2 linked regions of the Homo sapiens genome follow. The protein of the gene in region 1 interacts with the protein of each later gene in a biochemical or structural test. Each region holds a gene or a part of one and is shown on either strand. Other genes may lie near its edges.

Region 1 (4,772 bases):
TCTGTCACCGGTGTCACCCTAGGCTGCTTTTGCCCTGACTTTAGACAGCTCACTGGTTTTAAGTCACATTTCATCAACCCTTAGCCATAATAATCAGGATCCTCTGGTTAAGTGGAATGTCTAACCAAAACAAAACAAAAACTGATTTCTTTCATACTCTTTTAAATGTTCATTCTGCAGACATACTGTAGATTATATTTGTAAAAAAAAATCAATTTTTGGTGGTTACCCCCACTTCCCCCAAAAGAATCACAGAGAAAGGAAAGAGGAATAGGTAAAGTTTTAAACTTCGTCTCAGGTAAATGGGAAACGAGCTTGATTTTTCAGGGTCTTAGATAAGACACTTGTATATACTGAACAGGTGCTGCTTTTGGCTTGTATCACCAATGAGGCAGCAAAGTTAGAACTCGAAACTAGGGTGGGGGGTGGTGGCTGTATAATTAGGTCACAAAGAAATGTGGTAAGGACTTTGCATGAATAAAGTAGGTGCTTTATAAGGATTCATTAAGAGCTGAATTTATTTGACTTCAGTTTACAGTGCTGCCTCTCTCCTAGATTTGAAACGAATGCAATAAAATGTACAGATATTATATAGTGTTAAAAGGTCTCTTTCATGCTAGGCTAGCCACGAGTCTTGTCAAATTCATTAGTTTAATTTTTACCATTTAAAACAACAGAGCTGACTTTACAAAAGTAAAAGCTGCTTAGTAGCAACAGAGCTAGTCTTCCCGTCAACTGCTTGCTGTTTACAGGCCACAACCTGGCCACTGTAAACATGACACATCCATCAGGTACATATATTTTTAAGTGAACATACACATTTGGTCTAGTAAACATCAATAAGTCTAAACACCTGTTAACAAGCACACTTCATTTTAGGACAAGAGGTTTTTTGTTTTTTTTTTTTTTTTTTTTTTACATATACAAAATCCCACAAATTTAATGTGCGTCAATATCCATGCAGTAAATAAATGTTTTTACAAATAGAGTTCTTTTTAAATGATAAAAATATTACACTGGACCCAAAATTCCATACAAACATTAATACATGATTTCTCATCCATTTTGACTAAATATAGGATTACTGAAAATGTGCTGTAGAAAGGCCACTCTCCTGTACAGTTGTGCAAAGTCTGCAAAACGATAGTGATTCAATGGTGGTTTCAAAAGCAAAGAAAAAGATCCCCGCTGTGGAGTTTTTACTTTCTCCTCTACAGCAAAAATATTCACTGGCATATATCTGAACTCTTAAAGATGAAAGTACATTCACTGAGCTGTACAGGCAACAGTATAAAGCTGATTAGAAGTAGATTTTAGGATATAGAATAGTAAAGGAGGTTCCCTTTCTCCTCCTGAAAAAAACAGCAAATTGTGACTTGTACATTATGCAGCCAGACACTAAAAAGCAGCACAGTCATTTTCATGCTGTGATCACTTTCAAAAACAAGACGCTTATAAATGGAAATATATGAAGAGGACTTTTCCTTAGACTTCATCCACTCTATAGAACAATTCATGAAGCCAGGAAAAAAACCTCTAAATTGTTTCTCTCATAATTCAATGTGACATCTCTTTGAATGACCATCACCTGCTTGCTCCTTAGAAGGGAAGTACATTTTTATTTTTCAGTGTTGTTTTTTATAACACACATCAGCCTGAAACTAAACATATTGTACTTCCCTACCTGAAGTATAATTACCTAAGTTTAATTAGTGGACTAGGGGAAAATTGGAAACTAAGTGGAAAGTTGATTCATTTCAGTTTATACCTTGTTGTCTTTTAAGAGTTGGAGTTTAAAAACATGAGTTTGGGCTGAAATTTATATATATATATAGCTGTTAGCTGCCTTTCTGGGTGTGTTAAGTCAGTTTTTAAAAATCCCCTCTCAAATTCTTCTGTACACAATCAGCATCTCATCACTACAAAAATAAAGGAAGATTTAAACCAAGAAAATAAAGCAGCTCTATCTTCAATTTTGGTCTTAGTTACAAAAACATCTTACAAAGCTTTGCCCTGATACACCAAGTGTTCTCATAGATTTGGAATAATATTTCCATTAACTTAGCTTTCACAAGTTAATAGACTATTAAGACGAATATTAGATACCTGAACTTTTCTTATGTCGATGCTCTTCTATTTTGCTTAGCTCTTGTATGCGCATCTACATTTCACAAAAATAAAACTACAGCATTAAACTTTGTGCAATGTTTAAGAAAATTCTTAGAACATTTTAATAAATATAAAAAAGGTTTAAATTCTTTCCCACCCACAAGGATGTCTGCACCTGAAAAAATGTGATTTACTTTTGAAGTCTTGTTTATATAAAATTAACTTAAAGGGAGAAAAGATGACCATAGATAGAAAACTGCCTTTTGTGGTTTTACTACTTGAAGACCACCTGTATTTAGAATTGTTTGCAAAAGTTAATTTTAAGTCATTAAAGACAGTTGATTTTGCACATGGTAAACATAAGCTGAGCACTGTTGCATATAAAATATACAAATGCTCATTAAAGATAGTGGTATTGTGACCATATATGGTTTGTTTCATATAGTTTGGTAACATTAAAGTATAGCTTGTCAAGTGTTCCACACATTGATATAAAAACTACCTTATATACTTGTTCAGAGTACCAGCAGGTACTAGATGGTCTGAAGGCAGAATACATTTAGACATGCGTTTCAATGTATGAATGAGTGTGTGCTAGAGAGGAAGTGATTACATCTACTTCAGAAGAAATACTCAGTGGGTCATTTGAGGTGGTATTTTGACAGATATCCAAGAAAAGGTCGAGGTACATCTGCTTCCATTGTTGGAATTCTTTAGATGTCAAGTCTGGATTGTCTAGGACTTTATCGATAATGGCTACTTCCCCTTCTCTGGCCTGAAAAGAAAAAGGATTCAACAATTAAGACAGGGACAAAGTTTTATTCAAGTTTAAAATAAAAAGTTAATAGGCAAAACATTTAAGAAGCCCATAGGAGATGGCTTTGGATACTCACACCCACCCAGCTCTTTAGACTCACGTCCTAGTGTACTTTTTTCTACACCCGAGGAACGCCTCCTTTTGCCCACTGTGTGGTTTGCTTTTTCTCTTTGCCTGTCCTTTTGCCCATCTCTGCTATGGAAACCTTTTTCGTTCTTTAAGATCCAGTTCAAAAGCCTCTCATTTCTTCAAGCTGTGCTTAAACACTCAGAAAAGTTTTCTCCCTCATTTATGCCCCTTTACTACTCCATCAGTGCCACTGAGTACATTTGTCATATTCTATTTCTTGAGTTACTTTTGCATGTGTTCTATTTCTCCTGCTTTATGGTAAGCTTCTCATACTTGAATGAGACTGAGCATGGCCCCCCTGTTACCACAAATACATAATTCTTGCTGTGTGAATGTTATGGCTCCCTTTCTGTAGCACTGGGGGCCTGTAATGGAGAATGGCTCTCCCTTCCATGTTGGAAGCTGGGTCTCAGCTGAAGACTGAGCTTCATTTTGGTATAACTCACCAAGTTAAAACTATCACCTGGGGAAGATGAGAATTTCCCAGGTGGAAGGTGGGATGGAGAAGTAGGGGTTAAGAAAGTCTGAGCAGCTCAGTCCTGACCCAAGTAAAGCTTAGGGAAGTGTAGAAAATGTTCTGCAGGAAGTAAGGCATACACCTCTGGGCCAGCCAGAGTTGGGAGGCAAAGAAAACAGTAAGGTGGTTAAGAAGTTGGTCTGGCCTCACAGACCAGAATATGGAAGAGGGCTGGGACTGAGGATGTTGTGAGTTGCCTGTGGTGGGATCTGAGATCTGTGCTTGGTGAGGGGGACTGTTAAAATTCCAGGAAATAGACACATCCAGGGTTGCTTGGCCAGCTATGCTTCCCTAATGAAGGAATTCATTCCCTATTAATTTTCCATGCCAAAAACCATAGGGTTCTGTAGTTCATTTGTACCAATGAGGGACATTTTTTACAGTGACTTTTCGTTATCTTTCTTGGTCCCAGAGAATCGAGTGGAGCATTCATGTACCTGGTGATTCATCAATACTTAGTGAACTGAACATTGGCAGTAGCCATATATTTTGTCACTGGAAGAAAATACCCTGGGGGACTCTACAGAGCATAAAAGACAGGGAAAAGGGGCTGTGAGATAGAAGGAGAGAAACAGGTCTTTAAGATCCATGAATCTAACCTGCTTCAAAATGCCTGCCTGCCTTCTAAACCAGGCAGTTTAGAACTGAATGGGGGAAGTGGAGAGGCTCTATAAGGTGGGAGGGTGATGATATCTTTGGAGTAGGATTAGTCACTGCAACTATTCTTACGACTATTAACAGCACTCTCTAAAAATTCTGCTCTTCCCAAAAGTCCATTAAATTGTCCCCTGGATTTGCAGTAGTATTTGCATGACTACCAATTAAAAGCTAATGGAGTCTGAAAACTTTGCTGCTTGCTATCTGAAATTTTTTCAGGTCATTTTCTAGTTTGTCTGTCTCTTTGGTACTCACCTATATTTCAAAATTACAAAACCTCAGCAGCATGCTATGGATCTGAAATATTTCCCAAAGGAGCCCTCTGACCTTCTGTTTCCTGAAATTACTACAGCACATACTCTGTATGATAGTTCTTTTTTTTTTTAATTATACTTTAAGTCTGGGATACATGTGTAGAATGTGCACGTTTGTTACATATGTATACACGTGCCATGGTGGTTTGCTGCACCCATCAACCCATCATCTACATTAGGTAGTTCTCCTAATGCTATCCCTCCCCTAGCCCCCCACCCCCCGACAGGC
Region 2 (5,577 bases), on another chromosome or scaffold:
TAGAGTTAGCTGGACTTTAGTCCACTATCATTAATACAGTAGTGAATTATAAACCTTAAAATCCACAGCTTCTAGAAAAAATACAATTGATTTCTCCTTTTCATTTTGAGAATTTTACTGCTCGACATACCAAGGTAGGGCTGGCAAATATGAGCCCCTGTCATAGGCCTGCCCTACAGAGCGGAGATGTATTATAGCAAAGATGGTTGCAGACTGGTGACAGGACCAAGATGCTCTTCCCCACTAGCCCCTGACCCCCCTCAGAAATCCACCTATGCGGTACCCCCAACAGGTACTACCAACTGAGCAGTCACCACGGCCGGAGAAAACGGGCACCTTCCCTGCTCTGCGAGGAGACAGAAAGCTGAGCTCTGCAACATGACAGAGGCATCAACTCAGGATGGCATGTGTTCTTGAACTTTTCATTTTGTGACTCATGTTGTCACCCTCCATAGAGCCAACCATAAATGTTTTCAAAACGATTCATTACAAACTCAATATTCTTTAAAAACGTTGATGCTGTGACAGTGCAAACAGCATTGATTTTATTGCTCGACTTCGGCATGGGCACATACATAGTTAATTTTTAAAAACCATTTATACAGATGTTACTGATAAAGCTCATGTAACAAATGAATGAAAATACAAAGAATATCAAAGCTAAAACACTCTGTAATAAATACAAATACAATGAAAATGATAAAACTTTGTTTTTAAAGTCAGTCTGAGAGAAGAATATTACATAAAGTGAACTAATTACATCTAGAAATAAAACAACTCAGCATTTGGAACAATCATCCTAACATGTTAAATACCACAAATGGCACCCGTTGACTGTACGCTTAGAAAACAAGCAGAAGGAGCCACTCTCCCAAACTAAGGATGGTTGGAACAGCCTCTAACTCCCAACAATCCAATCAGTCCAATGCACTGGAAATTCAAAGCCCAGATTTAGTGTTGTAAAGTAAAGCGAATTACATTGTATTTGAAAGAAGAGAATCTTGTGCTCCGGACTGTAAATACATGAAAGAAAAAAAGGCTTGGTAAAAAACCCATTCGGGGCAACAAACTATGTGCAAAACAAAATGTACACTATACACTATACACTATGCACTATTTAAAAACTACACCAAGATACAAGGCCCTCTGAGGCAAGACTTACCTCTCTGTACTGCCTATGAGCTCTACAAAGGAATCTCTGTTCATAACTAAGCATTCATGATGGAAAGGCAAGAGTATGAAAACAGATATCACATATCTGAAATAACAATACAGCTAGAGGGAAGACAAGAAAAAACCAGTTAAGAGGGACATGGAAATAAATATTCACATTAAACATGAGGTGCAAGTCCATGGTTCAATAATACATTGGGGGTTTTTGCTTAGCACCTATTTGGAAGTAATCGGGTAATGTAACTTTGAAATGGAAATCTAAATCATGTTTTTATATATGTTGGTGATAACATAGACTGTTATGGAGAGTAATTTCTTTTTTTTTTTTTTTTGGGCGGGGACGGAGTCTCACTCTTGTCGCCCAGGCTGGAGTGCAGTGGTGCGATCTCGGCTCACTGCAATCTCTGCCTCCCAGATTCAAGCAATTCTCCTGCCTCAGCCTCCCAAGTAGTTGGATTACAGGAGTGCGCCACCATGCCCGGCTAAATTTTGTATTTTTAGTAGAGACAGGGTTTCACCACGTTGGCCAGGCTGGTCTCGAACTCCTGACCTCAGGTGATCCGCCCACCTCGGCCTCCCAAAGTGCTGGGATTACAGGTGTGAGCCACCATGCCCAGCCAATTTCTTTCTTTTAAAGCTCTATTAAGTCATTAGTATAAAGTTAAAAAGGCACTCAAAAAGCAATGGTATTTGCCTGCTTTATATTGTATATTAAAATAAGTGATAGTAGCATTTCATTATTACTGTATCCCTGTCAGTTATGATTTCTGTATTCATTATGTACTTTTTTACTGAAAGATTTTAAAAGTAGGCACAATTATAAACTGCACTAGTGCTTTAATATAAAAGAGAGATGGGTCTGCAACCAGTAAAGTACTATCATGACAGCTGAACATTACTGATTATCAAATAGCATAGAAACCACTTCCATACATTTCAAGATGCTCTTCAGTACTCAGAATGCAATGTAAAAAAAACAAATTGTTTGAGAGGAAAAAGGTAGGCATAAGCATATTACCACTGCACAGTTACAACTATGACTAGCTTGCTTGTGGCAGTTGAATTTGGCCAAATGAAATACATTAAAATACTTAAAAACTACACAAGTAGTTCTCAACTTTTTTAAAGCAGCAAAATCTCCACTTTTTTTATCCCATCCATTCCTCCCCGCCCCACTGCACCCCATGAAAGCTTACTTGAAATTCCAATATACATAAGAAAAATGGGCTGTTCTGGGTAAAGGGGGTGGGGATATGGAGCCTAAGGCCCCTGCTCAAATACCAACTAGGCCTTCCCCCTCGCTCCCTCTCATTGCCCCTCTTCTCTTAAACCATTACTCCTGAGGCACCCCTGAGGAACCCTTTGGCTCCAAGAACACAGACTGAAACCCACTCCATCACATGAAACAGAACACAGAGGACCTATTTACTTGATAACTTTAAATTTTGCAGCTTAATTATCATGAAAATTTGCTTATTTCACATCAATGTAAAAAAAAACTGATAGTACATATTTTTGATGGTTGAATTTAAAAATCCAACTGTGATTTCAGATTTTTTCAATCCCTCACCCCAGAGTTTTCGTTGCTTCTGGATCATTCAACATGCACGCACCTTGAAAGCTAAATCTGGACGTTTCAAAATCAGATGCAGATCTTCAACACCAAGGGAAGCGGGATTCCCTTACTTCCAAAATGAACTCTTCAAAGTAATTTACGCCATAGAGTTAGAATCACTGTTCATACTACCGCCCCTCAACCCCACTTCATTCTGTTAGGTAAAAGCAGGATTTTCTAAGCTTATTAATAATCTTTAGAGCAAAATTCTTCCTTTTTCATAACTGTAGCTGATTAAAATTATGAGCAGTTAACGCTTTAGGATGGTTTTGTTAATGGAAACTTACACTGTAGTTAAAATACAATATAAATTAGGTGCACTTGTCAGAGACTTTGGTTTATAGGAATAGTCCATATATTAAAGATAAGCTGACCCAGCAAAATAACGAAAATCCCATCCCATCCACATGCTCTGAGAAGCTATAAAAATGCAGTATTTTAAGATTAAAAGTAAATCCAAAATACCTAATCATATTGACTCAAGATAAAAACATTAGGTTTTTTTTTTTTTAAAAGAGTCTCTTAAAAACAGGGAGCCCCTGAACACATCTTATTGTCACAAATAAATGACTAAGTTTAGACTAAATGGTTGCATTAGGAATTTGACAACCAAAATTATATCGCTGTATTCCAGGAAATCCGTTCTTGAAAAATGTAAAAAAGACCCACTTAGACTAGGTTGAAACATATAATGCAAAATATAATGCTCTGCTATAGAAAAACACAAACATGTAAATGGCTTAATTTCTTAAAGATGATTCTTTTAGCCAATTGTTTACAAAGGTAGAATAATTCAAAATAATTTTATTTTTTTTTACAAAGAGCAAGTACAGGAGCTGTTCAAGATCATGTATTCAATCAAAATGAAATGTGACTTGTACCGACTGCTGAAGTTGTCTTGATGTTTGAGAGACTTGAAATCTGTGAAGAAATTTGAATAGATTACCTTTTATAAAAATAGTAGTAGTCTTTAAGTGTAGAATACTGCCTAACTCTGGAAATGTAGGAAAAGTCAGCATTCTTTAGGTTCAAGATATTAAGTTTAAATAGCAGCTGAATGTGGCCTCATGGCAAAGCATAAAGACCTTTTTTTTCCTTGAAAAGGAATTTCAAAATTGTCCTTTCCCCTCACAGTGTCCTAAAATGTAAAAAAAAAAAAAAAAAGGGGGGGGGGGGGAGTGTTTTCCTGTATTTCAGCATATTCTTTGAAACTCTGCTGAAAGGAGGCTGTCAGTCAGGGTTGTATAAATAGAGTCCTGGGTAAATCCTTGAAGCTTGTCATTCCACAGCAAATCCACATGTTTCTTCAATGGCTGTTAGCAGCTTTTCATATAGCTTTTCATAGCTTTCATAGGGTGGAATGTCTATTCGATTGAAGCTGTGAATAAGCAAATCAAATTTTATACAGTTCATTCAAAATAAGTAAACTGGCCTAGCAAGTGTATACCAGTATAGCCACATCACTCTGTGTCACACAGAAAACTAAAAGGTATTTCTCTAAAACAGAGATGACCACTTTTGGGTTTTCCTACCAATTTCCGAATAATCTTAACTTTTAAATCACTTAAGTTGCTTATCATTCCCTTTAAAGGCCCATTTAACACTAGTAAGTACAATAAATAAAAAGTCAAATCTGTTTGGAACTAACACTTATGTACATGGAATGGGGAATACAGCTACAAAAATACCTTACCAAGTGTGGGCTTTCGGCAGGTTGTTAGTGCAGGCATCAATCTGGTGTATGGTAAAGAGTCTCGGGCCTGCAGCACCTGCAAATGAAGGAAATGTGGATGAAATCACTGCAGGTGCGTGCATTAGTCTCCAAAATCTTAAGAATAAAACTGGTAAGTTAACCACAGGATCTGGGGATAGGGGAATGCTAATGAATCCACACATACTACCAAAGGGCAGCAGGAAAAGCATCTGGGTTTTAAGAGCCAGAATTAACCTTGGATAAGGCTTAGATTCCGTAATAGGTTCACATTTCCATTTGAGAAAAAACTCAAGATTGAAATCCCTTTCTCAATTTCTATCTTTTATAGAAAGTCAATATCCCAAAAGCATGAGAAGAAAAGTAATCAGGCAAATCCAAGGTAAAATACATAGGCACACATTCAAAAAGATGACGACCTGATGCAAATTTAGATTTCATGACTCAAACTGGGCTGACAGCAAAAGAGCCGTCTATAGAATCCATTTCAGTTCGCACAGGCACCCCATATAAATACATGTAGCAGAAATACAACTTCACTTTATGCATCTGGGAAGTGTGAGGATGAGGAGCTCTCCTTACAGAGAAGGGCAGCACAGCTGAAAGCACGCTCTCCCCCCAGGGATTTCAGCGCATGCGCTGTGGGCAGCACTGTCGAATTATGTACCAGTGTCGCTTTGTGTGTCCTTATTCATCACCAGCAGCTTTGAAAATGAAGTGCTTAAGAGGTAAAGGAAGCAACTGCCACCCAGTGAAGCACCACAATCATTAGCAATATTACCAGCTCCTCCCAAAATTAACCAGCTTATTCCACAGAAAACCATTCTTAAAAAAGGAATATGGTTGTAAACAAATGGTCTGATGCCATGCAGTAATTAAAATGCTCTGACCGAACAGATGGTTTCCATGACCCATGCTGCTTCTGTCTAATAAGAGAAAGAACGAAAAGTAGAGGGGAGAGGCATCCCAGGCAGGTAAACGTTTCACCAGGTCAAGATGTGAACATGGAAGTGAACGACTTCCCTACAGGAATGTGCAACAGAATTAAAAGTAAGGTGACCAGAAAACAAAGGCAGAG

Evidence for each region. Proteins that work in one complex are often made in the same cells at the same time.
Region 2: the proteins of CNKSR2 (region 1) and SMURF2 form a complex in vitro, tested with the Homo sapiens proteins (one study listed by BioGRID).

The regions. Positions count from the first base shown.
Region 1 is NC_000023.11:21,650,418-21,655,189, reverse strand, and holds the end of CNKSR2 (connector enhancer of kinase suppressor of ras 2), read right to left. Parts: intron 2,885-4,772; coding exon 2,669-2,884; 3' UTR 501-2,668; downstream 1-500.
Region 2 is NC_000017.11:64,541,782-64,547,358, forward strand, and holds the end of SMURF2 (E3 ubiquitin-protein ligase SMURF2), read right to left. Parts: intron 4,558-5,577; coding exon 4,482-4,557; intron 4,167-4,481; coding exon 4,067-4,166; 3' UTR 501-4,066; downstream 1-500. UniProt on the Homo sapiens protein: E3 ubiquitin-protein ligase which accepts ubiquitin from an E2 ubiquitin-conjugating enzyme in the form of a thioester and then directly transfers the ubiquitin to targeted substrates.